5 separate regions of the Homo sapiens genome follow, and regions 2, 3, 4 and 5 are each reported to be linked to region 1. The links are microRNA targets in miRTarBase. Many come from high-throughput screens and were not tested one by one. Region 1 holds a microRNA gene; each other region holds the end of a gene's coding sequence.

Region 1 (6,562 bases):
TCACTGGCCATCAGCAGCCTAGGCTGGCCACCCTAACACAGCCACCTGGCCCCTTGCCCTCCCTCCTTGTGGCCAACAAGGGCTGGGTAGGGTGCTCTCTTCCTACTTAGGACTTCCTGTCTCAGAGTGTGGGATCTGAGATGTCATTTACAAGCTCAGTGGGAAAACAAATATTCCAGATAAAAATATTCCCATGACACTTGGCCTGCCCCTGCCGTCTTTCCTGTGGCTCTCTTGTTCCTGGTTGGGGTGGGGACTCTGCAGCCTGGCATGGGACATTTGGCAGTGAGGAGGCCATGAGGCAAGGTGGGTGAGAACACAGGCTCCCAACTCAGACAGCCTGGCTTGAATTCTGATACCACCACTTGACTTTGGCTGGGATCCTTTCACCTCTCCTCAATTTCTCCACCTGTAAAATAGGGATAATAGTACCTACCCCCACCCCCCCACCCCCGGGTGTTGAGAAGGTTAAATGAGACAGTAGGTGCTCAGTAACCCAAATGGCATCCTCCCTCCTCCTGCAGAGAGCCCCCGCTGCCCCAAGGAGAGCAGGCCTCACAGTGCCACCCACTCCACAAGAATGCAGAGCTCAGAACCTTTACATCGGGCTCCTGTTTGCAGGAACGGCTCCAGGCCTGGCTGACAAGGGCTGTGAGCCTCTCTGGCCTCCACCACCAGCCTTTCCTGGGAATCCCAGGCCGGGGTAGTGGAAGATTCTCAGAGCAGCCGAGGCGCCCTCCACACCAGCCCTGGTGTGCACTTTCTACAGCCATCATGCCAACACGTCCTGCAGCCTTCGCCCACCCAGAGTTCATTTCCTCCCATTTGGGGTAACTTCACCACCCCAGGTCACTGGACAGGACCGAAGGTCACCAAAGGTCATCCCGGAACACCGCAGGTCACCTTGGCTCTCAGTGCTTCATCCAGAAACCTGAGTCTACCCCCCATACCCGTCTACCGAGCCGCCAGGGCTTATGTTGTGCAAACGCTGCGCCCTCTGAGACAGGGGCTCAAATGTTCAACATACCCTTTAGGTGTTTGCGGAAAGGATGAGCTCAAAGACGCCTGCCTCTAGGTAAACGGAGCTGCCCTTGCACATGTGATGATAAGGAAAAGCAAACGAAGGCTGCCTTTGAACGGCCTTTTTGCTCCACCAGCTCCCAACCTAAAGCTGCCTTTGCAGTCGTGAACTGTGGGGGGATGGGGGCGTGGAGGTGGTGGGGGAAGGACAGTGGCCACTAGCACCCTGGCCCTTTGAGAAGGGTCCTGCCCACTTCGCCCTGCCAGGCCTCGGTTTCCCCCCTGCAAAAACAGGAAAGTTGATATTCATGCCACAGGCTTGCTCTGAATACAGACTAAAACAGACTATTTTCTTTTTATTTATCTTTTTTTGGGACGAGATCTCACTTTGTTGCCCAGGCTGGAGTACAGTGGTGCAATCATGGTTCATTGCAGCCTCAAACTCCTGGGCTCAAGCAATCTTCCTGCCTCGGCACCCCAAGTAGCTGGGACTACAGGCGCTTCCCACTACATCAAGTTTTTTTGTTTGTTCGTTTGTTTTTTAAGAGACAGAGTCTCTCTATGTTGCCCAGGCTGGTCTGGAACTCTCAGATTCAAGAGATCCTCCTACCTCAACCTCCCAAAGTGCTGAGGTTACAGGCATGAGCCACCACTCCTGGCGACAGACTATTTTCTAAAAGCCTCACACGTTACCCAACTAAATAGGGATGTTGAGGGTCAAGGTCCAGGGCTGGGGAGGTGGAACTCTGGAGTAGGGAGCACAGGGAACATAGGCAGGGAGGCCAGGCCAGGCACACTCAGAAGAGGCTGCTTCAAAATACACCAGCAGAGCATTTGCACCTTTAGCCTGAGTTCTGGCAACTTTAAAAGACAATTCCAGATTGTCTTACTTATCCATTCATTCATTCCATTCAGGAAGTACTTCCTGGGTGCCTAGGGCTGGCATTATTTTACATGCCAATGGCTAGGGATAAAATGACAAGTGATGGGTCAAGCTCCCTGCCTCACTGAGCTCAGAGCCAACAAGGGAGCTGAGCTGCACACCTACTGTGTTCAGGCTGCACTCTGCATGCCTCTGCTTAGATGTTAGATGGCTAGCTTGCTCAGCCCAGGCCCTGAGAGTGAGTGAACGCTCTCCCTGGGAAGATGAAATGAGAAGTAAGACGCTGTCATTTAACCACAAGAGAGAGCCCGTGGAGGTTTGGGATGCCCAGGAAGAGCTGGCACCTCTCACTTCGGTGGGAGCATCAGGAATCTGGGCCCATATCCCCTCCCGAGAGTCTGGCCTTATGTACATTTCCCAGAAATTCTCACTGTTTATACTGAGGGGCCTCCCCGGAGCAGAAGTCATTCAAATCCTGTTTTCAGCTGTAAGTCACTTCCTGCCTAGCTTAGGGCACAGGCATCTCAGAGCATTGAATGTATGGCCACGTGGCCACCCCAGAGATCCAAGCAAAACTGTCTGGTTGCCCAGCCTCAGCTGTTCCTGAAAGGCTTGAGTGTGCAATCCCGGTCCCCTGCTTTGGAGTTACACAAAGGGCCCTCCCGTAAGCCCTGAACAGCAGGCATGACTCAGGCCCAGACTTAGGGCTGGTTTCCACAGCCCATACCGGGGCCCTAATTTGGAGAAATCTGAGTGGACCTAGGCTGAAGATCCCCCCTGAGGAGGTCAGGAAGTGGCCAGGGGACCTTATATAAGCTGACCTCTCCCACCAGGCTGGGCAGGAGGCTAGGGTGAGTGTAGGGGCAGGAGGTAGAGGGAGGAAGATGAGGGGAGAAGGTGAACGGGCTAAGGTCTCCAGCGCTCCCTGGTGAGACCTCTCCAACTCCCGTTTCGGTAACCGCTTCTCTGGCAGGGGTTTCCGCAGGCCTGCCATCCTGACCAAAGGGGAAGAGCACGTCCACCTGGAATGGGAAGGCTCCCTCCTGCCCATCCCAGGGCCACAGAAATGTGGACCTGGAAGGGGTAAGAAGGCAGGCGCTAGCTCCATCTCCCACATCCCAATCATAGCATCTCAAATTATACATGTAGCATCATGGGGCTTGTTTAGAACATAAGGTAGTACTTCCTGGAGGGAAAGGCTTGAAATAAGCAACCCCAAATGAACAAGGCAAAGATGTAACAAGGGCCTGGAACCTGGCAGCCATGCTGACTCTGCGTGTGCCATGTCCTCCCTGGTGAGTGATTGGGCCAGGAGAAATGGGGGTCCTAGGCCTATGGGTCAGACACCCCAATGAGAAACTATTTTGGCTCCAAGGAGCCCCTAGCCACACAGCTCCAGAAACCTGGGAGACGCAGGGCAGCCCACGGTCACTCCGGCTTCATCCCAAGTCCTTGTGTATTCTGTGAATTGGGAGCCTGAAGGCACAAGAACCATGGGAGGGTATGCGTTTGACCAGAAGGTAGGAAGGAAGCAGCTTAGCCTACAACCCTTCTGGGGCACCTCCTGGGCCACCCTCTGCTTTACAGCTTAGACCTCTGGGGAAGGGGGTTGGGCACTCGGCGGAAATCATCACTCATTTGCATAGTGAAGTCTATGCCGTACCTAGGTCCCAAATCCAGGGGAAGGCAATGCACGGCAGAAACGGGGTTTGAATGACTTCTAGGAGCCCTTTGTGCCAAGTCGAGATGGCCTCATCCCCACAGCCCACATTCCTGGCAGGCTGGGTCAGGGATCCCTGGGCCAGAGATCTGAGATCAGCCTGGCCAGCAAGCCCCCAAGTAAAAGTTTATGCTGAACAGAGCACAGAAGCCGAGCTGTGTTCCCTTAGGTCAAGATTTTCACACTTGAACTCACGTTCCCTTTAAATAAAGTGGAAACTCCCCATCTCTGCCACTCTACACCAAGATTCAAATCCCCCCAGCATGACCGTGTGCTGAGGCTGTGTTTGCTTTAGGCCCTCACCCCGCTCAGGCTAGTTCAGTTTTGTGACTATCTAGCACCTCTCACCCCCATCCTACAGCCTGGGGTGGCTCGGGAGCCACCTGGTCTGAGGAATGGCTGGATTGGGAGGGACCATATCAAAATATTCCTGCGGGACTACTGTTAGTTCCTTAAGATACCATTAGAAGGCCACCCCATCCCACGAAGCTTCTCTCATCAACTTTACACTATGTCTGCAGTCTAACTAGGTGTGACTTCTCGGTTGGCATTCTGGCAATATGTACCCAGCATTTCAATGCACACGAGTCTCAGCCCAGACATTCACTCCTAGAAATTGTCCCTGCAGAAATACTTGCACAGCGCAAAGAGACACAGAGCGACAAGGACATCCGGCACAGCGTTATCAGTCTGCAAACTGAGTACAGCATTTAGCATGCACTTAGTATGTGCCAGGCAGGGTTTGAAGAGCTTTTTATCCTTATTAATAGCTCATTTAATCTTCACCCAAGAGGTAGGTCCTTGACCATGCCCGCTTTACAGATGAGGAAACTGAGGCACAGATCTACCCAGCAAGAAGCAGGCCTGGCATCTGCGCCAGGAGGCATCACCCTGCTGAACTGGATTCACAATCCTTCCATCCCCTTTGCCTGCTGGGAGGGCAGGGACACTGGAAAGTTCAGGATGTTGAACTGAGTTCTTGGCCACACGGATAACAGAGAACCCCAAAGGAAGCTGGGGTGTCATCTGCGCACAACCTCCCGATTGGAAAGTTAGCATTCTCCCTTCAGTTGTGAGAAGGCTCATAAGCCCCCCCCAAAACACACACACACACTTGTCCCAGGTTAGGGGCATCACCGTATCCTAGCCGCTCTCTGGTGTACACGGCTCAATGCAGAAATCACAGTTCGAGGTGACTCTCCGCAGAGGAGCTGGGTCTTGCAGCCTCTCAGTTTCCCTAACTCGGGAGAAAGTCTTGTGGCAGCTTCCATTCAAACTCTTCATCAAACACCCAGGGGGAGCATGCCATTCCAGACCCACTGCCACAGGAATCATGGTGGGACACCGCAAATCACAGCACAAAGATCATCAACATCAACCCCACAGTGAGGGCCACAGGGTGCCTGTGCACTACCAACCATGGGACCTCGGGGCCACGGGGCAGCAATAGTGAATCCTGCTGAGCCACAGGAGAGCAGACTGGCAGGCCCCGGTGCACCGGCCGTGGCCCACCGCTGGCTTGAAATCACTGATAGGTGGTAAAAATAAATTTTAAGAGGAGTCCCGAACTAGTAGCACGGGGAACCCTAAAGAGCCCTGCTCTCCACTGGATGGAGAGCTGACTCTTCCCAGGTCCCAGGAGGCAACACCGACTTTGCTGAGTCCCAAGCCTATCATGGGCTTTCCCACCCAGCCTGGGGCAAGAAGTGGAATACGCTTAGCCCAGGCAGTGGATGGAAGCAAACTCCCCCAAGGAAGGTGGTATTAGTCTCCCTGGCCATTCCCAGTTGGAGTTGATTTGTTCCTTTAAGAAGGGGAAGGATTCTCGAGCACTGGAGTTTTCAGGTCCCCTCCCAGTCTTGAAAGTTTACATCCCCAAGTCCCCTTTTCATTTGCTCAAAGAGTACATGTGGCTGGCAAGAAGTGCTCGAGAGGCTTCAGGCAGTCTTGGAGTGGATTCTGCAGGTGCCAAGCCTCCTCAAGACCCAGAGATCCTAAAGCCCAGTCTTCAGTCCTCAGAGTCAGAGGATAGAGATGGACAGGACTTCAGCCTCAGCCCTCCCGCAAAACAGAGTCATTTGCAAACTTTCAAGACTGGGAGGGGACCTGAAAACTCCAGTGCTCGAGAATCCTTCCCCTTCTTAAAGGAACAAATCAACTCCAACTGGGAATGGCCAGGGAGACTAATACCACCTTCCTTGGGGGAGTTTGCTTCCATCCATTGCCTGGGCTAAGCGTATTCCACTCCTTGCCCCAGGCTGGGTGGGAAAGCCCATGATAGGCTTGGGACTCAGCAAAGTCGGTGTTGCCTCCTGGGACCTGGGAAGAGCCAGCTCTCCATCCAGTGGAGAGCAGGGCTCTTTAGGGTTCCCTGTGCTACTAGTTCGGGACTCCTCTTAAAATTTATTTTTACTACCAAATCCTCCCCAACAGAGCTTCCATCCTCCACTTTTACAGATGCCTCAAGAGAGGTTTACAGAGGCCCAGAGACTTGCCCCAGCTCTGTATGGGAGCACTGAGATAGTGCCAATCTGGCCATCCAGGTCATTCTCCTCCTTCCACTGCCCCAAGGGAAGTGACCAGCTTGAGAAGGAGACATTAAGAGGACAAGTAGGCCCAGCACCGGGGCCCTGCCATGCCGGGTCCTGTAGCGTCATCTCTCTCCTGCCATCACTGGCAACAGATCAAATGTCAAAGGTCAAAAGGAAAAGGCTCCCTCAGGGCTAACCACTCAGATACTTCCTTTTCTTGCTTCAAACAGAGGACAAGATCCACCCTTTTTGACACAAACAAGATGACAAAGAGCTCAGGGAAGGTAGGGCAAGTCAAGGGCGGAGGAGAATTCTTCAAGCTATGACTTCTCCCCGAGAGAGACACCACTGTCCCAAAAACCTCATCCCACTGAGACAGTTGCTTCAGGGGCCACAGAACCAAGGGGT
Region 2 (3,000 bases), not on the chromosome of region 1:
ACCTCCCGATTCCGGCAGCAGCGTCCCCTGGAGTTTCGGCGGCTTGAGTCCTCAGGGGCTGGGGGACGAAGGGCGGAGGGGCCTCCCCGCCTGGCCATCCAGGGACCTGAGGACTCCCCTTCCCGACAGTCCCGCCGCTATGACTGGTGAGGGCCCCGGGCCCTCAGCCTCTCTTGTAAGTATCAGGAGTAAGGAGGGTGGGGTGCACCTGCGGACGGTCCTCGGCTGCAAGGCAGGCTCAGTTCAGGCTCCCGCAGGAGCTGCCTTTGGTAGTACAAGTTGACATGGAAAGAGAACAATGTTCTCACTGACATAGGGGATTAAACCCCAACTCCTGGCTCTTAACGTAAGTTTTTTCTTCCTTTTGACTTGTGCTCCTCTCTCTTTCCCCCTCCAGGTACAGGCTGAGAGGCTGAGAAATCATCCCCTGAATAACTTTTTCCTCTCGATTCCCATCCCCAATTTAATATTAAATTAACAGGCAAGCCGGCCCCCACCTCTCCCTGGGGGTCTCAGGGAGAACCTTTCACGGCACCCTTTCCCTACCTTTTCCTTCTTTAATCTCCTGGTTTACCATTGATGACTTCGCCTCTGCATCTACTGACTTGATTTTTCATTCTGCCACTCCATCTTCAAACCCCCTCACCTTTCCCATCCTACTCCTGCCATGCATTGAAGGGTCAATGCATTTTGGGGTGAGCTCTGGGTTTAGGGGCCCCCTCCATCCCTCAGCTACCCTGGATCTTTGCCCACCTCTTCCTCAGAGCCCCCACTGAGGGGCCGTAGCCCTATCTAGGGCTGTGGAAGGAGCAGACTGGTTCCTAACTCTCTCCCTCCTCCTGCCCACACACATCAAAAGAATCTTCCCTACACCCTTCTCTGCCTTTATTTTTTGATTTGTGCAACTTGTAACTAGGTGTTTATGGAATAAAGGAGAATGGAAAAAAGACCAAGTGGGATTCTGGCTGTACTTTTGATCTTTTCCTGTTCAATTCAACCCTGCTGTCTCCTCTGAAGTTACCTTCTCACTTTTCCTCGTCTCCACCTGTAGTCTTCGTACCTCAGAGTTCAAGCCCACATCTCCTTGGTACGGACAGACCATCAGCACTGCCAGGTGCAGGCCGTGAGCACTTGGCTGGGCTAGGCTGGGGCGTGAGAACATGAGCACCTCTCTCGCTGGCTCTTCCCTCACATTCTGCTGTAACTTTGCTCTTCAGGGATGTGTTGGGCATCTCTCATGGGTGCCTGCGGAACTTGCTGCCCCTTGCCCCTTGGACAGAGTTTCTTTCCTGCACTCTGGGTGGAAACACTTCAGATAACCCTACACAGGCCTTCAGAGGGGAGGAACTCTGGTCTGCAGCGTTCCACAAACCCTCCACCCACAGTAGTTGAGAATTTGAGCCCAGGGAAGGAGCCTAGAGAAGAAAACTAACCTGGAACCTGAGCAGGACTGGAAGGGCATGAGGAGCTCAAATTTCTCAAGACGTTTGCTCTTGCTTTGCCCAGCCAAATGGGTCACTCTGTTCCTCTTGGGAACTTACTTAATGATGACAAATGTGTAGGAGAGTCTGATAATGGTTTCCTCTTTATGAAAGTCTTGAGTTCTTTTCAGTTGGTAGGGACACAAAGACACCTAAGGCTCTGGGTCCTCTCAGGGAAGGGAGGATCTTCCCCTGTGTCTCGTGGACGAGTAGATTCAAGAGGATAAGGAGGATTTGTCCAGTGACTCAACAAGCAGAGAGATGAAGTTGAGCTCAACAACCAGGCACTGGTGTCCTAGTCCAGTGCAGTTACTAAATCTCAGTAAGTAGGCTAGGCTGGTGAAGATGCATGACCGGGTCAAGGGAACCCAGTGGTGAAAGAATCCAGGAATCCCAGAAGTCAATCTAGTGTGGATTATTCACCACCACCTGGGCTCTGAACTGTGGATGATGGAACTCAGCAGCCATGGCCCTCATCTTTTTATCTTTTTTTTTTTTGAGATGGAGTATTGCTGTGTCACCCAAGCAGTGGCGTGATCTCAGCTCACTGCAACCTCCGCCTCCCCAGTTCAAGAGATTCTCCTGCCTCAGCCTCCTGAGTAGCTGGGACTACAGGCGCACACCACCACGCCCGGCTAATTTTTGTATTTTTAGTAGAGGCAGGGTTTCACCATGTTGGCCAGGCTGGTCTCGAACTCCTGGACTCAAGTGATCCACCTGCCTTGGCCTCCCAAAGTGCTGGGATTAAGACGTGAGCTGCTACGCCTGGCTTCACAGCCCTCATCTTTAAGTGTAATCTTGCCCTGTCCAGATAAGCACACGACTGTTTCCTCTGAGAAGGGAGTCGTTTTCTTCACTCTCCTGAGAAGGCAGCAAGGTAACCTGGAGTTGAAGGAGCCTCAGTCCTTAGCTCGGCCACTGACAGCCTTGTGGTCTTGGGCAGGTCACTCACCTCCCTGGACCTGAGTTATGTGGGGCCCTTCTAGCCACAAAATATCAGGCCCAGCCTCTCAACCCGGATTTTAGTTCCAGTGCCCACACGCGCATGTGTAGTCTTGAGTGTGACTGCGGCAGAGTAAGGCTGCCCTGACCTCAGTCCAGGTGAGTCAGTCCAGTGTTTCAGGGACTCCCCTGTTCAGGTCCCAGCCTTTAGACATGTGAACTGATTTGTACTCCTGCTCCCTGCTGTAGGGTTTGGACCACCCTTCAGCCCAGCACTTACTCCTGGGGCCTGTGACTAGTTCTCAGCAGGGATATGTTGTGGGAAGTGAGGTGTTAGCATCAGTAGAGTGAGATGCTCAAGAACCAGCCCCCTAGCACGTCCTGACCTGTCTGCCACTGGGGTAAGGGCCACGGGAGAGGAAGAGGAAAGGAACTTTCCCGAGGGACACAGATACTCTACTTCCGGTCAGCTCTCCATCTGGGCCCAGCCTCACACAACAGCCACCCCTCAGCCACCGGCCCAGCGAGTATCCAGAGGACATGGGCAAACGCCTCAGGTTATTTTCTCCACCCCAGA
Region 3 (6,562 bases), not on the chromosome of region 1:
ATTCCGAGACCAACGAGCGGCTCTTCGATGAGAAGTACAAGCCTGTCGTGCTCACCGACGATCAGGTGGACCAGGCGCTGTGGGAGGAGCAGGTCTTGCAGAAGGAGAAGAAGGACAGGCTCGCCCTGAGCCAGGCCCACTCGCTGGTGCAGGCGGAGGCCCCGAGATGAAACCCTGAGGCCCCCGAGTCCTGGCAAACTGCTTGCCTGGGGTGGTGCAGTTCTGAGTGTGCCTCACCTGCAGAACAGCTGAGACAGATGATGTGCAAAGTGTTTTCTCACTGGATTTGCACAAGTTTGGGGAGCCTTTCTGCCCCCCGTCTTTGTTCTTTATTAGCTGAAGCTAATTCAGAGCCACCTGGGTCCGGGAGTTGGGGACAGCAGAACGACTTGACACATGTTCATCACTGGCAGAGCTGGTCATGAGCCTTTTATATAAGCCTTTTTCATCGGGCCTCAGAGGCCCTCCTTAAGGAGGTACCACATTGGTCAGCTGACTTGCAAACTCTTCTAAGGCCACTTAGATTTTCTTTTTCAAGTTTGGGTTGTGGCCTGGCATGGTGATGTCTGTAATCCCAGCAGTTTGCAAACTGAGGCAAGAGAATCGCTTGAGGCCAGGAGTTTGAGGCCAGCTAGAGTGACATAGCAAGACTCCGATGCTACAAAAAAGAATAATAATAGTAATTAACTAAATAAAATTTGAGCTGAAATGTTTTTATTCTATGACCTATTCTCTCTCGTTTTTTTTTTTTTTTTTTTTGAGACAGGGTCTTGCTCTGTTTTGCCTGCTGGAGTGCAGTGGTGCAATCTCGGCTCACTGCAACCTCTGCCTCCCAGGTTCAAGTGATTCTCCTGCCTCAGCCTCCTCAGTAGCTGGGATTACAGGCCTGTGCCAACATGCCTGGCAAATTGTTGTATTTTTAATAGAGATGGGGTTTCACCATATTGGCCAGGCTGGTCTTGAACTCCTGACCTCAGGTGATCCACCTGCCTCGCATTTCCAAAGTGCTGGGATTATAGGAGTGAACCACCACACCTGGCCTTTCATTTTGATAAGTAACATTTTTGCCATTCCCAGCTCTTTGGAAGGCTGAGGTAGGAGGATTGCTTGAGATCAGGAGTTCAAGACCAGTTTAGGTAAAATAGTGAGAGCTTTCTCAAAAACTAAAATATTTGGAAGGGTAAAGCAGGCAAATCATTTGAGCTTAGGAGTTCAACACCAGCCTGGGCAATATGGCAAAACCCCGTCTCTACAAAAAGTACAAAAATTTACCAAAGGTGTTGAATGAGAATTGAAAATATGTATACATAGAAAAATTAGCCAGACATGTTGGACCATGTCTGTAGTCCCAGCTATTCAGGAAGGCTGAGATGGGAGGATCACCTGAGCCTGGGAGTTCAACGCTGCAGTGAGCCACGATCGTGCCACTGCACTCCATCTTGGACAACAGAGTGAGACTGTCTCAAAAAGTAAAATAAGTGGATGGGCCCGGTGGCTCAAGCCTGTAATCCCAGCACTTTGGGAGGCCGAGGCAGGTGGATCACGACGTCAGGAGATGGAGACCATCCTAGCTAACACGGTGAAACCCCATCTCTACTAAAAATTCAAAAAAATTGGCCGGGCGCGGTGGCTCACGCCTGTAATCCCAGCACTTTGGGAGGCCCAGTCAGGTGGATCACGAGGTCAGGAGATCGAGACCATCCTGGCTAACATGGTGAAACCCCGTCTCTACTAAAAATACAAAAAATTACCGGGGCGTGGTGGCGGGCACCTATAGTCCCAGCTACTCAGGAGGCTGAGGCAGGAGAATGGCATGAACCTGGGAGGCGGAGCTTGCAGTGAGCCGAGATTGCGCCACTGCACTCCAGCCTGGGCGACAGAACAAGACTCCGTCTCAAAAAAAAAAAAAAAAAAAAAATAGCTGGGCGTGGTGGCAGGCATCTGTAGTCCCAGCTACTCAGGAGGCTGAGGCAGGAGAATAGCGTGAACCCGGGAGGTGGAGCTTGCAGCAAGCAGAGATTGCACCACTGCACTCCAGCCTGGGCAACATAGTGAGACTCCAGCTCAAAAAAATAAATAAATAAGTAACATTTTTGTTTTGATTTTTTTAAGTTTTTTTTTGAGACAGAGTTTCGCTCTTGTTGCCCAGGCTGGAGTGCAGTGGCACTCGCCCCAACCACCGCCTCCTGGGTTCAAGCGTTTCTCCTGTCTCAGCCTCCCAAGTAGCTGGGATTACAGGCGCATGCCACCACGCCCGGCTAATTTTTGTATTTTTTAGTAGAGATGAGATTTCATCATGTTGGTCAGGCTGGCCTCAAACTCCTGACCTCAGGTGATCCGCCTGCCTCAGCCTCCCAAAGTGCTGGGATTGCAGACGTGAGCCACCGTGCCCGGCCCTCGTTCCCTATTAAAAATACAAAACCAGGCAATTGACAGTGTCATGACTATTGGGATGTTACAGGGAAGTTTTTTGTAAAACAACCTGTTTACCAGATGAGCATTGTAAGTTACTGGAGGTGGCTTGGAAGGATAAAGCATTTTCTGGTCTGGAAATCTATATGGAATCATAGATTCTGGTTATGTTGTACTTCAGTAACCCTGAAACAGAATTCTATGAAAAGAAGTAAGTTAGTGTACACAGCTGGTACTTAGCTAGGTTATGGTAAATTGTATTTTTGTTGTTGTTGTTGTTGTTGAGACAGAGTCTCACTCTGACACCCAGGCTGGAGTGCAGTGGCACGATTTCGGCTCACTGCAACCTCTGCCTCCCAGGTTCAAGTGATTCTCTTGCCTCAGCCTCCTGGGTAGCTGGGATTACAGGCATATGCCATGATGCCCAGCTAGTTTTTGTATTTTTAGTAGAGATGGGGTTTCACCATGTTGGCCAAGCTGGTCTCAAACTCCTGACCTCAAGTGATCCTCCCACCTCGGCCTCCCAAAGTGCTGGGATTATAGGTGTGAGCCACTGCGCCCGGCCAATATTTTTTTTTTTTTTTTTTTTTTTTTGAGACAGAGTTTCACTCTATTGCCTAGGCTGGAGTACAGTGGCATGATCTCGGCTCACTGCAGCCTCTGCCACCTGGGTTCAAGCGATTCTCCTGCCTCAGCCTCCCAAGTAGCTGGGATTACAGGCATCTGGCACTGCGTCCGGCTAATTGTTGTATTTTTAGTAGAGACGGGATTTCACTATCTTGGCCAGGCTGGTCTTGAACTCTTTGTGATCCACCTGCCTTGGCCTCCCAAAGTGCTGGGATAATAGGCGTGAGCCACCACACCCGGCCTCAATACTTTTTATTTTTTTTAAGTGTAATTTATGGCCGGCGCAGTGGCTCACACCTGTAACTACAACACTTTGGGAGGCCAAGGTGGGAGGATCGCTTGAGTCCAGGAGTTCGAGACCAGCCTAGGCGACATGGTGAAATCCTGTCTCTACAAAATACACAAAATTACAAAATACACAAAAATTAATCGGGTATGGTACACACCTGTACTACCAACTATTCAGGAGGCTGAGGTGGAAGAATTGCTTGAGCTTGGGAGGTTGAGGCTGCAGTGAGCCAAGACTGCATCACTGCACTCCAGCCTAGGTGACAGAGCAAGCCCCGTCTCAAAAAATTAATAAGGCTGGATGCGGTGGCTCACGCATGTGATCCCAGCACTTTGGGAGGCTGAGGTGGGTGGATCACAAGGTCAAGAGCTCAAGACCATCCTGGCCAACATGGTGAAACCCCGTCTAACAAAAATTAGCTGGGCGTGGTGGCGCACGCCTGTAATCCCAGCTACTTGGGAGACTGAGGCAGGAGAATCACTTGAACCCGGGAGGTGGAGGTTGCAGTGAGCCGAGATCACGCCACTGCGTTCCAGTCTGGGCAACAGAGTGAGACTCCGTCACACAAAAAAAAAAAAAGAGAAAAAATAAATAACATAAAACTGAAGTATTAAGGGAGTGATGCTACCTCAGGGGCCTGTGGCAAGTTAATAAAACCAGGTGGTAAAACAACTATCTTTGTTTGTGATACTTGTTTTTGTGTGTTTGCTACTTTCAAATTTTGGCATTTGACCCTTGCATTCATAATCAGTGGGTTGAACAGGTGTTGGTTTAAGTCAGCATCTCACTTTTACAGAGGAAAAGCTGAGGTTCAGAAAATTTATTTTTCCAAGGCTGTGGCAGGACCAAGATTCGAACTGTAACTCCCAGCTCTGTGACTTAATCCTCAAACTTGTGGACTTTGATCCTAATAATTCTTGTCAGAAATAGTTAAATACTGCTATCAGTTGCCATAAATAAAAATTGGATATAGAAATACATATATAAAGCCGGGCGTGGTGGCTCACGCCTGTAATCCCAGCACTTTGGGAGGCCGAGGCGGGCAGATCACAAGGTCAGAAGATCGAGACCATCCTGGCTAACACAGTGAAACCCCGTCTCTACTAAAAATATTTAAAAAATTAGCCGGGCGTGGTGGCAGGTGCCTGTAGTCCCAGCTACTCGGGAGGCTGAGGCAGGAGAATGGCGTGAACCCGGGAGGCGGAGCTTGCAGTGAGCGGAGATCGAGCCACTGCACTCCAGCTTGGGCGACAGAGTGAGACTTGTCTCAGAAAAAAAAAAAACAAAAAAAAAAACCAGACATATATAGGCTGGGTGCAGTGGCTCACGCCTATAATCCCAACACTTTGGGAGGCCGAGGTGGGCAGATCATCTGAGGTTGGGAGTTCGAGACCAGCCTGACCAACATGGAGAAACCCCATCTCTACTAAAAGTACGAAATTAGCCAGGCGTGGTGGCACATGCCTGTAATTCCAGCCACTGAGGAGGCTGAGGCAGGAGAATCGCTTGAACCCGGGAGGTTGTGATGAGCTGAGATCGTGCCATTGCACTCCAGCCTGGGCAACAACAGCAAAACTCCCTCTCAAAAAAAAAAAAAAAGAAAAAAGAAAAAAAGAAATACATATATAAAAAAGAAATGCAATAAAACCAAAAGACACAGCCTGGATAACATAGCAACACCTCGTCTCTACTAAAAATAAAAATAGGCCAGGTGTGGTGGCTCACATCTGTAATCCCAGCACTTTGGGAGGCCAAGACGAGTGGGTCACCTGAAGTTAGGAGTTCAAGACCAGCATGGGCAACATGGTAAAACCCCGTGTCTATTAAAAATACAAAAAATTAACCGGGCATGGTGGCAAGCACCTGTAATCCCAGCTACTCGGGAGTGAGCCGAGATCATGCCATTGCACTCCAGCCTGGGCAACAAGAGCAAAACTCCGTCCCAATAAATAAATAAATAATAATTAAAAAAAAAATAGCCAAGTGAGACGGTGTGTGCCTGTGGTCCCAGCTACTTGTGAGGCTGAGGTGAGAGGATCCCTTGAGCCCAGGAGTTTGAGGCTGCAATGAGCTTGGTCATGCCGCTGCACTCCATCCTGGGCCACAGAGTGAGACACTATCTCCCCTCTAACCCCCAAAAATGAAAGGAAACAAAAGACGTCGAGATGATACTAACTAAATGCTATCTCTACACCATTACCTGCCAAAAATCTCTGTCCCCAAATCTGCCCTCTGTTAGACATTAGCCAACTTCAGGGAAGGGTTTTAAGGTGTCATCAAAGACACTTGTTTCTCATTGATCAGAAGTATTGGAAAGGGTCCACACCATCATTGCTTGAGTCAGTTATTAAATGCCACTTTTGACTTCTCGCCAGGGTGTGTTCCAGGAAGATCATCTGAAGCTGCTGGGAGCTTGAAGCTGAGGGCAGTGGTCGGCGCTGTTGGTAGGAATTGTGGAGCTTGGGCAGCCTGAAGGCTTTGTGTCTTGGCTTTGGGCAGAGGGTCAGCTTTTCCCAGAGGTCTCACTGTACTTCAGCCCATGCTCTGGTGTAAGGCAGAGGACAGGAGGCATAAGTGGGCTTTAAAGCCAGGATTTGGAACTCAGCTTTTACACTTCCTTGCTTTGTGAGTGAAGTCACTTCTCCATGCTTTGGGCTCCTTATCTCTAAGTGTGGGCTTGTCAGAAAAATTTAAAAGCCCACTAAAGCACTTGGTACAGAGTAGGCATTCACAGTCTGTGGTGCGGCTGTGCAGGGAAGATTATGGCTCCGAATCCATGCTGTGACCTTCCTAAGTGGTTGTGGAGGGGCTGATGCACCCTGCCTAGTGGTGCAGGGCCACCATGTAGGGAGGGCCCAATGTCTGATAGGATAGAGCCAAGGCACGCTTCTTTCTCAGATCCAAGTGACAGCCGAATCTAATATGAACATTTCTGAGTTCTCCCCCACACCTTGTTTTCAGGGACGGTCTCACTCTCTCTCCCAGGCTGGAGTGCAGTGATGCAATCTCAGCTCACTGCAACCTCGACCTCCCTGGACTCAAGCTGTCCACCCACCTCAGGCTCTCAAGTAGCTGGGACTACAGGTGTGCACCACCATGCCCAGCTAACTTTTGTGTATTTTTTTTGTAGAGACAGGGTTTCGCTATGTCACCCAGGCTGTTCTCGAACTCCTGAATTCAAATGATCTTCCCACCTCGGCCTCCCAAAGTGCTGGATTACAAGTGTGCATCACT
Region 4 (6,562 bases), not on the chromosome of region 1:
TGAGGTCCTCTTTCTAGAGTACCTGACAGGTTGCTTGGCATCCAGAAGATGTTTAGCTAAGTTAAGAGTTTTCTTCTGTCTTCCTTCTCTCCTCCAACCTTAACACCTAGATATGGGCTGGGCCTGTAGACTGACTGCCTTGGAATGGGTTGGAGCTGCTGTCTGAAACTTGCTGGGCTGCTCTCCCTTTTGAACCACTTTTTGTCTGTTCTGATTCACTCTTCCAGGGCCTTGCCCGAGATGGACAGCCGGATTCCTTATGATGACTACCCGGTGGTTTTCTTGCCTGCCTATGAGAATCCTCCAGCATGGATTCCTCCTCATGAGGTGGGAACCATCTGTATTCCTGAGTAGGAGATTTTTTTCCCCGTGGGCATGAGATGATGCATGAAAGGTAGGATAGCAGGGTTAGAAGGCGAAACGGAGAGTGAATCTTAGCACTTGTAGCCAGAGGACCCAGAAGCTGGATTCTGAGCAACAGGACCCATTGGGAACTTCTTTATGGAAGCCTCCTGCTAGGGTCTGTTCACACCGGTTAATTCTGGAAATTTGGAGCCTTCATTTCCATACTGTTAAGAGGTTCAGCGCGGTGGCTCATGCCTGTAATCCCAGCACTTTGGGAGGCCGAAACAGGCGGATCACCTGAGGTTGGGAGTTCGAGACCAGCCTGACCAACATGGAGAAACCGCGTCTCTACTAAAAATACAAAATTAGCCGGGCGTGGTGGCACATGCCTGTAATCCCAGCTACTAGGGAGGCTGAGGCGGGAGAATTGCTTGAACCTGGGAGGCAGAGGTTGCGGTGAGCTGAGATTGAGCCATTGCACTCCAGCCTGGGCAACAAGAGCAAAACTCCATCTCAAAAAAAAAAAAAAAAGGTGAAGAAATGGGGAGCTACTGGGCTGCCCCAGTGCTATCCATCTACTCATTTAGTCTGTGTTATCTGTTCTACTTAAATTAAGTCTATGACCTTTCCTTTTCCTGACTTCAGGGTAATTCATTAGTGTTTCAGATGAAGGTAGGTGTGAAGTAAGACTGGTAAAATTTCTGGGGTTGCTGTGTCTTGCAGAGGGTACACCACCCGGACTACAACAATGAGTTGACCCAGTTTCTGCCCCGAACCATCACACTGAAGAAGCCTCCTGGAGCTCAGGTGAACTTATGAAACCTTATTTCAGGCTAGATTCATCCATACCACAAATTGGCAGTGTTGGGGGGATGGATTGGAAAGCAGGTGCAGATGTGAGGAAACTTTCCTTCTTGTGGACAGAAAAGCTGAGATAACACTTCTGCAACTTCTGACTTTCCTCTCAGGGACACACAAGCTGAGCTATTGTACGATGATGCTACTAGTTGTTCTTGTGTTTGTGGTCTCCATTGAGCCCCCATTCTGTGCTCTTGTCTTACAGTTGGGATTTAACATCCGAGGAGGAAAGGCCTCCCAGCTAGGCATCTTCATCTCCAAGGTATTTATGCCCAGTAGGCAATATGGATCGTTACTTCCCTTTGTTAAATTAACAGATTGCAGAACCCTAATGTCCCAAGGGCTGAGAGGATGACTCTGGATTCATAGAAGGGGTATAATGGAGACACCCCCTTTCCCACTTAAAACTTTTCATTTGGCAGGCCATCTGTCTGCATACATTGTCACAGAAAAACAATAGCACCATACATTTGAATAGCACCGAATTTCACTGACAGTCTTCTGAAATTATCGCATCCCAATCACATGTATTCTCTCTTTACCAACAGGTGATTCCTGACTCTGATGCACATAGAGCAGGACTGCAGGAAGGGGACCAAGTTCTAGCTGTGAATGATGTGGATTTCCAAGATATTGAGCACAGCAAGGTGAGCACAGTACTTGGGCTGTGGTGCTGCAAGAAGCCATCTCAAATAGGACAGATTGGACAGGAGTAGCCTAATCTGTAACTTAATAAGAAAGCATTTTGCTGGGCACTGTGGTACACGCCTGTAATCCCAGCTACTTAGGAGGCTGAGGCGGGAGGATCACTTGAGCCCAGGAATTTAAGACCAGCCCAGGCAACGCAGCAAGACCCTGTCTCAAAACAAACAAACAAACAAACAAAAAGAGAGAGAGAAAGTAAGCACCTCTCCTGGGAAAGTACAGGAGGGAAGCAGCTATTAGTGACACACAGGTTGGAGTGGCAAATCCCTTTCCCCCTATTATGATTCTGTCTTGGGTCATATCTCTTCATTTGTACAAGCTGCTGTGTTCCTTCCAGGCTGTTGAGATCCTGAAGACAGCTCGTGAAATCAGCATGCGTGTGCGCTTCTTTCCCTACAGTAAGTGCCACTTTCTTTTTTCACTTTCCTGACAGGGCCCTAAGTAAGAACTCTTTAAATACTGATGACTAGAGGCCCTACAAGTTGGGGATAGGGAATCAGGAGCTCAAGCGTGAAGATAACCTGCTCTGTTCCTCCTTTTCTTCTTCTTTCCTTCAGATTATCATCGCCAAAAAGAGAGGACTGTGCACTAGAAAGTTGCAGCCCACAGCCCTTCATGTGGACTCTGTCATGACATGCTAACTAGACTTCAGGGGAGCCACTTCTGTTTTCAGCCCCTCCCTGGAATAGTGAGTTGGGAGGATGGGGAGACAGCTAACCAACTGCATTACCCAAACCATATTGCACTTTTAGTTCCCTAGTTTTCTAGGTGAGCTTCATTCCCTGAAAGGAGGATGATGATATCTAGGCATAACCTAGCCTGTGAGGAACCTAGTTAGGAAAGACAACTGACATTTATTGAATATCATGCACTAGTCCCTTACATATGTCATATTTTAATTATAGAAATCAGTAGCAAAAAGAATCTTGGGGATTTTCCATCTGACTTCCCTGGCCATCTTATCCCATCCTTGCACTACCAGAAGATTCATACACTTTTGAGACTCCAGTGAGACGCTGTTTTCACCCCTTCCTCCTCCTAGCCTCTCTCCCAAAAAGTAAAACACAATGCTGAAGAAATATTGGTGTGACTTTTGAATGTTACCGATTGGATGTAAAATGCTATCGAGGGAAGAAAAAGCTCTTCCAAAGAGAGGAGCCACTGGAAGGAACAGAGCAATACTATACCTTCCTCGCAACTACCTGTGATGTCTGACCAGAACATTAGCAAGGCCAAGGAACTTTAACCACAGTATAACTAAGAAATGGCATAGAGTGAGGGGCACTGAAAGAAACTGCCCGTTCCCCTAGGAGCTTTGAGCATTTCTCTGCAGGGGACAGTAGTAATATAATTCTCTCTTCTCCTTTCCCACATTCTTTGATCTGGAACATAAACTAAGGAAGGGGCTTAGATGCATTTCTTTTCTGAGGCAGCAGTAAGAAATTGGTTCACAGTTTCCAACTTGTAAGTTGAGTAGTGCTAACTGCTGACTTCTCCCTTTTCTTCACCCCAGCCCCAAATAACATTCTGCCATGTTCCTAGATCTTTAGTTACCAATCCACCATTACAAGATTCCTAGTCATGCCTATGCCATCGCCACTGGCATGTTTAAAATACCCATTTGGAATTGAAAGTTTTCTAGTGTGAGGCTGGGCGCGGTGGCTCATGCCTGTAATCTCACCACTTTGGGAGGCCAAGGCAGATGGATAGCTTGAGGCCAGGAGTTCGAGAGCAGCCTGGCCAAAAAGGTGCAACCCCATCTCTACTAAAAATACAAAAATGAGACAGGTGTGGTGGGACACTACCTGTAGTCCCAGCTACTCGGGAGGCTGAGGCAGGAGGATCATTTGAACCCTGGAGGTGGAGGTTGCAGTAAGCCAAGATGGCGCCGCTGCACTCCAGGCTGGGTGACAGAGTGAGACTGTCTCAAAGAAAAAAAAGAGTTTTCTAGTGTGGTGTGGGGTGATGTACCCCTATGATGAAGTCCCAAAATTTGCCTTGAAAGAATCCTGGGGAGCTTAAATATGTATTTATAGGCCCTTCTACTGGACAATGATTCTGTTAGTCTGAGGTGGAATCTGGAAATCTGGATTTTTAAAGAAGCAAAGGAAATAAGTAAATAAGTCTTCAAATGTAGGAAACATTGTTCTAAATAGTAGTACTATACTGTATGAGGAAGGTCTGGTTCTTCCTATATATCCCACCCTAGCTCTACTGACATACCTCTTCTAGAGCCTCACTGCTATTGTTAGGTGGCAACATCCCTTGAGAGCAGAGCTGGAGGTAGAATTAATGTAGCTGTCCCTATGCTTCCTGGGAAATCCTGTTCTATCCTCCTATTTGCTGACCCCATGCCCCGCATTGGCCACGAAAGAAAGAAAATAGTAGCTTGGTTACTTCCATAAAGGCATGTTGGGTGACTTGGCTGAATGTTGAGGTCCAAGACTCTTCCTGTGGTTAACAGGTCTTAAAACATTGTATCTAAGAAGTATGAAAAACATGGTAAAAAGTCCCAGCCAGGTGCCATGGGCCTAAGAGGCAAAAACCCTCCTGCCTTAAATTGGTTCTTGTTTGAAATACTTGGATTGGTTCTATGTTAGGGCACCAACATGAGATAATTGCATTGTGGAAATATAGGTATAGTGTGGAGAAAGCACAAGCAATAACAGCCTTAGGTTAAAGAACCATTTATTGAGGGTGTAGGTAAACAACAACAAACAGTGGAGAATGAATTGTATTGGCCTTTGAAGTATGTCAGCTGCTGTAGAACTGTATTCTCTACAGATGTCTTTTAGCTGTCGGAGAAGGTAAGGTAGAATTCCCAGGTGCTGCAAGAAGCTTCCACCCAGTAGCTGTGAGATGCGGTCAGGAAAAAATGATAGCACTTTCAGGGGTTCTGTTTTTACCCCAAGCCTAGGAATTGGAAGAGAGTAAGTGGCCATGTATCATAAAACGAGGTGGGGAGGAGAACTGGTATGGCAAGCCCAAATGTAAGAAATCCATCAAATGAGGCAGAGAAAGCCTAAGCTGTCAACAATAGCTTCTGTTGCCTGACTCCTCGAAGGATTCCAGTTCGATTTCAACCGCTGAAGTGTGTGTCAAGGAAGCTAATACAGTGAGGTGACTGGAGTCAAATCTTAACACCCAAGGTCAGCTTCTAGGAGATGTAGAAGAGGAATTCTGATCTTACAATCCCTCTCACCTAAAGGCAAACGAAGGAACTACTTTGGGCTAAAGTTAGTCCCATTTTCCCCTTAGGTACCACTCAGGCATCAACTCAGCAAGGAAACTTACCTTCTCTACTTGTATACTCCCTACCCCAGCAAAGCTAGGAAAAAGGATACTCCCCTCTTTTGGTGGAGGTGAAGTCCTTGTGGAAAGAAGGGCAGAAGCCACACGCCGGAACAGCTGTGTGTGTGTGTGAATGGGGACCAAAAAAAAAAAAAGGGGAAAAAAAAAAGGTCAGGTTCAGAGGCTAGGATAATTCAGGGCCTTTGAGATACATGATGGGGAGATGAACCTTGACCCCTATCCCACAAAAGATAAGCCAAGCTTATCCAAAAGAGTAAACAGTAGTAGTAGCTACAGACAGAGCACAATTAAAGTATCATAGAAAGAAACAAGTATTACCTTTTTCACGTTGTAACCGGTTTTGGCACTGGTCTCAATAAACATCACATTGAGGTTTCTGGATTTTTCTTCACCCTGTTCTGCAGTGACTTGTCTGGACGAATCAGAAATGATGAAAAGGGCCAGAGTTATTGGATATGGATAGACTCTTCTGAGGTGTAATGATGCTTACCTAGGGCCAGGAACCCTAGAAGCCTTAAACCCATGACCCTTCTGACTACAGGGTGGGGACTCTCTCCTATACCCCCAACATATCCTTGTGCCCTGATGGGACGCCCCCCTGTCCTTCCCATCCTGCAGTGCTGGTAGGGGGCAGAGGGGACTAAGGTAACTCCTCCCCAAGTAAATAGAGGACAGTTGACCCTCCCCATAGAGACTGAATTTTAGGTATGCCAGAAGAAGTTGTAGTTATACTTTACCTTTTGTTATCCAAATCAATCTTGTTACCCAACAACATGATGACAACATCGTCACCTCTTTCTGCTCGCACGTGTTCTACCCACTTATCTGTCTCCTTAAAAGAATTGATGTCTGCAAGAGAATATGTTCCAGAGCGTTGAAACATTTAGGAGAGATTTGGAGAGAACACTTCCTCTCTGCTAATTTTGTCAATCTCCCTATCAATCCCTTTATAATCCCCTTTTCAAATAAAACATTGCATAACACCCACTTGTAATGTCATAGACAACCACTGCAATAGTTGAATCACGAATGTAGCTAGGAATTAGGCTGTGAAAGCGCTCCTGGCCAGCTGTGTCCCATAGCTGCAGCTGAACCTGCATAAAAATGTTTAGGAAGAAGATGGGGGAAAGGTAGACAAGAAACTAGCCTTTTTAAAAAGCTCAAACCTAATAAAGGCAGAATACAAAAGGTCAGGTAGACTGGATCCCTGAGAAGTGGCTGCTATAGCCTCAGACCAAATGGCCTATAGTCCTAGGACAGGTCCAACCAATTTCAATATACTGTTTTGATTCAGGAAGACCCTACAGCACAGCAGATTTAAGGATTCAAGGTCTCTTGGACT
Region 5 (3,000 bases), not on the chromosome of region 1:
CCAGGAGTGAAAGAGTTCTGAGTGAAAGGCTGTTAGGCATGTTCTCCGGCCAGCAGGGCCCAGACCAGAATGGGAGCCCTGTTTGTGATGTCTGCGGTCCCTCCCTGGGGTCGATAAGCCCAGGGCTTGTCGGGGCAAATACAGAAGTATGAGCAGCATCTTTTCCTCTCGGTCCCTCGGGGAGATGAGAGACGTGTTGGCTAACCAGCTGCAGATATTCACCTCACATCTCTTGCTCTCCCCCAGGTCTCCCTACACCACCACCCGCTATGGAAGCCCCATCAACACGTTCACCGTGAGGCCTGGGACCCGCCATCCCATCTCCTATGTCTGCTCAGGGGCCCATCGGAAAGCCACCTCCTGAGCCAGGGGTTCTCTTAGCTCTACTCCAACAAACTGTGTCTTTAAGGATCTGGGCACTTGTTTCTTGTGGGGGGTGGGAGGTACACAGCAGGTGTTGGGCGACCTGACTCAGACACAGAGGAGTCTTTGATCCCCAAAGACCAACGATGAGAAGCAGTGGCCCAGGAAGACCGAGAGTGGGCTTCTGTTTCCCAAAGCGCTGGTGTGACTGTGGACTGTTTACACGTGGGGGGTGGGAGGGGAAGGAGGGTAGAGAGAAGGAACCATTAAGGACCTGGGCGCTGAGTTTCTGCTCTCTGGTACTATCTGCTTTAGCAAGAGTTATTTAAAACAGTTTTACAAGCACGGCCTACTGAGCAGGTTCTGAAAGCAAGGGGTGGGGCACTGACTGAACTGGAACCCATCGAGATAGCTGTGATTGCCTGTCAGGCCCTTGCAAAGGGCTGAGGCCCAGCTCTGTCTGGTGGGTGTGCAGGGCACCGAAGGGAGATCTTTAGCCTCCATCACCTGCCATCCCAAGCAAGAGTGGACACCTGGGGTTCCTAGCCGCATTGAGGTGGGACCAGGAATGTGTATGTATAACATGTGGAGAAGGACCATGTGTGGGGTGGGGAGTGAAGCTCCCACATGTGGAATGGAAGCCCTTTGCATTGGCCAAGGGCAGAGGTGGGAGATTGATGGTTCATTTTTCCTTGGCCCTAGCCCTTAGCTACAGGGAGGCCTAGAGAGAGGACACTTGGCAAGTTTAGGATGGGAAACAAGGTTAAGCCTGGCTTTGCTATTCAGACCTGTGCAGCCCTGATTTTGGGGACTGGGCCCAAGGAGCCATGAGTCTTAGGCTTGACACTAGGGGCCTTACATGGCCAGGTCTCATATGGGATTTGGAGAAGGCATTTTTCCTAACACTGATACTACAAGTCACCAATACTCTTGATGCCTTAAGATGCTAGAAAGCCTTGGAGAGTGGAGGCAGCAGAGATGGGAATGGAGGTCTGAAGAAGCTTGCTGCTGTTGGGGAATGTGTTTGGGAAAGTCAAGAGTGGTAGGATTGGTTGGCTGGGCGCGGTGGCTCACACCTGTAATCCCAGCACTTTGGGAGGCCGAGGCCGGTGGATCACTTGAGGTCAGAAGTTCGAGACCAGCCTGCCCAAATGGTGAAACCCCATCTCTACTAAAAATACGGAAAAAAAAAAAAAAAGAGTGCTAGGATTGGGCCAGTTAAGAGCAGGGGAGACCTGGCTGGGCATGGTGGCTCACACCTGTAATTCTAGCACTTTGGGAGGCTGAGGCGGGTGGATCATGAGGTCAAGAGATTAAGACCATCCTGGCCTACATGGCGAAACCCTGTCTCTACTAAAAATAAAAAAATGACCTGGGCATGGTGGTGGGCGCCTGTAGTCCCAGCTACTCGGGGCGCTGAGGCAGGAGAATCGCTCGAACCCAGGAGGTGGAGGTTGCAGTGAGCCGAGATTGCACAATTGCACTCCAGCCTGGCGACAGAGCGAGACTCGTCTCAAAAAAAAAAAAAAAAAAAAAAAAAGGAGCAGGGGAGACCTATCAGTAGGGTGACCACGTGTCCTTTGCCTGGGCAGTCCAGGTTTATGCTTGTTTTCCAGTGAATTAGACCCCCTTCCACTTTTCAAAAAAGTCCTGGTTTAGATGCTGTGATCACCAAACATATCAGGAAACAATATTCCTTGGTCTTGCTTCCCTATCTTCAGGTACTGGTGGGCCAAATTCCTGGGACCAGGTCAAGGTGGGCTGCCTCAGTAAGAAGGAAGGACTGGAGAGTGCCCATTTCAGAGGAGCAGGCTGGTGGGGGCCAGCCAGAAAGTAGTTCCCTTTGGGGGGAAGATGTTGGACCTTTATTATTTGTGGTAACCAGCCGAGGCTGGTTGTCAGGACAGCAGGTGAGCCACTTTAGGGAAGAAAGTGCAGGGGTGGGTGGATGCCCAGATTACCAAGGCCAGCCACCCTGATGGGGTAGGGTCTGGTTATCTGTGTTCAAGAAGCAAATCCCACCCCAGCCCCAGCACTAGCTCTCTATGTATGTATTTTCCCTGTACAATGTTTTATAAAAGAGATCATTAATTTATCTGCTATGTTAAGGCTCGAGGGGTGGGGCGTAGACTCTCAGCTGTATATTGCTCTGGGGTGGGCAGGGAAGGCTGAGTCTCACTTGACTTGGAAGATAAACAGGCCAGTTTGGACTGGCCTCCAGCTCCGTGGCTGTGTTTGTCTAACAAGGATTTGGGTAACTACTGGATACAAGCCACTGTGCTTAGTATGGATAGACTGCCATCAGCTCACCCACATGACTCCTGTTCATGGCAAGCTAATAGTCTGTCTGGTGGAAGAGGATTGAAAAAGCACACAAAAACATCATAAATTACAAGGAGTAGTAAGAAGGAAAAAACAGGGAACGTGAGAGAATAACTAGCGAGTGGGGAGAGGAGTGGATTTACTTTAACAGGGTAGTCAGGGAAGGCCTCTTGTGGTGGTGACATACTGATTTAGGCAAAGCGTCCAGCACGTGCCTAGCGCTTAGTAGTTGCTCAGCAAATGGCATCTTTGGGTGATGAATACCTCACATTTGTATATGGCCTGTCACAGTTTTCCATAAAGCTTTTTTTTTTA

Evidence for each region. Region 1 holds the annotated microRNA hsa-miR-2392 (UAGGAUGGGGGUGAGAGGUG, at 3,962-3,981, opposite strand). A microRNA usually pairs through its seed, bases 2 to 8, with sites in the 3' UTR of a target mRNA and lowers its output. Matches are read on the target gene's strand: a 7mer-m8 pairs with bases 2 to 8, a 7mer-A1 pairs with bases 2 to 7 and ends in A, and an 8mer does both.
Region 2: the mRNA of MLF2 is a reported target of hsa-miR-2392. Seed matches in the 3' UTR shown: 8mer at 652-659.
Region 3: miRTarBase lists TIMM29 as a target of hsa-miR-2392. The part of its 3' UTR that is shown has no 7-base or 8-base seed match.
Region 4: miRTarBase lists PDZD11 as a target of hsa-miR-2392. Seed matches in the 3' UTR shown: 7mer-m8 at 2,873-2,879.
Region 5: miRTarBase lists C6orf132 as a target of hsa-miR-2392. Seed matches in the 3' UTR shown: 7mer-m8 at 1,683-1,689.

What each region holds. Positions count from the first base shown.
Region 1 is chr14:100,811,970-100,818,531 of GRCh38, reverse strand. MIR2392 (microRNA 2392) reads right to left here and starts at 4,041; the gene lies at 3,958-4,041. RefSeq lists an enhancer at 2,871-3,371.
Region 2 is chr12:6,745,945-6,748,944 of GRCh38, reverse strand. It overlaps MLF2 (myeloid leukemia factor 2), which reads left to right. Exons shown (of 9, transcript NM_001382226.1): 8 at 1-175; 9 at 398-949. The coding sequence ends at 150. Among named protein-coding and RNA genes, the nearest start is that of MLF2, 5.7 kb to the left of the region's middle.
Region 3 is chr19:10,929,533-10,936,094 of GRCh38, forward strand. TIMM29 (translocase of inner mitochondrial membrane 29) reads left to right here. Exons shown (of 2, transcript NM_138358.4): 2 at 1-722. The coding sequence ends at 170. Among named protein-coding and RNA genes, the nearest start is that of TIMM29, 4.0 kb to the left of the region's middle. RefSeq lists a silencer at 6,542-6,562.
Region 4 is chrX:70,283,020-70,289,581 of GRCh38, reverse strand. It overlaps PDZD11 (PDZ domain containing 11), which reads left to right. Exons shown (of 7, transcript NM_016484.5): 2 at 228-327; 3 at 1,069-1,152; 4 at 1,409-1,465; 5 at 1,752-1,850; 6 at 2,246-2,306; 7 at 2,466-2,987. The coding sequence starts at 241. The coding sequence ends at 2,500. RAB41 (RAB41, member RAS oncogene family) reads right to left here. Exons shown (of 8, transcript NM_001363807.1): 4 at 6,209-6,314; 5 at 5,958-6,069; 6 at 5,539-5,632; 7 at 5,253-5,316; 8 at 4,580-4,994. The coding sequence ends at 4,939. Among named protein-coding and RNA genes, the nearest start is that of PDZD11, 3.6 kb to the left of the region's middle.
Region 5 is chr6:42,101,125-42,104,124 of GRCh38, reverse strand. C6orf132 (chromosome 6 open reading frame 132) reads left to right here. Exons shown (of 5, transcript NM_001164446.3): 5 at 247-3,000. The coding sequence ends at 364. Among named protein-coding and RNA genes, the nearest start is that of C6orf132, 40 kb to the left of the region's middle.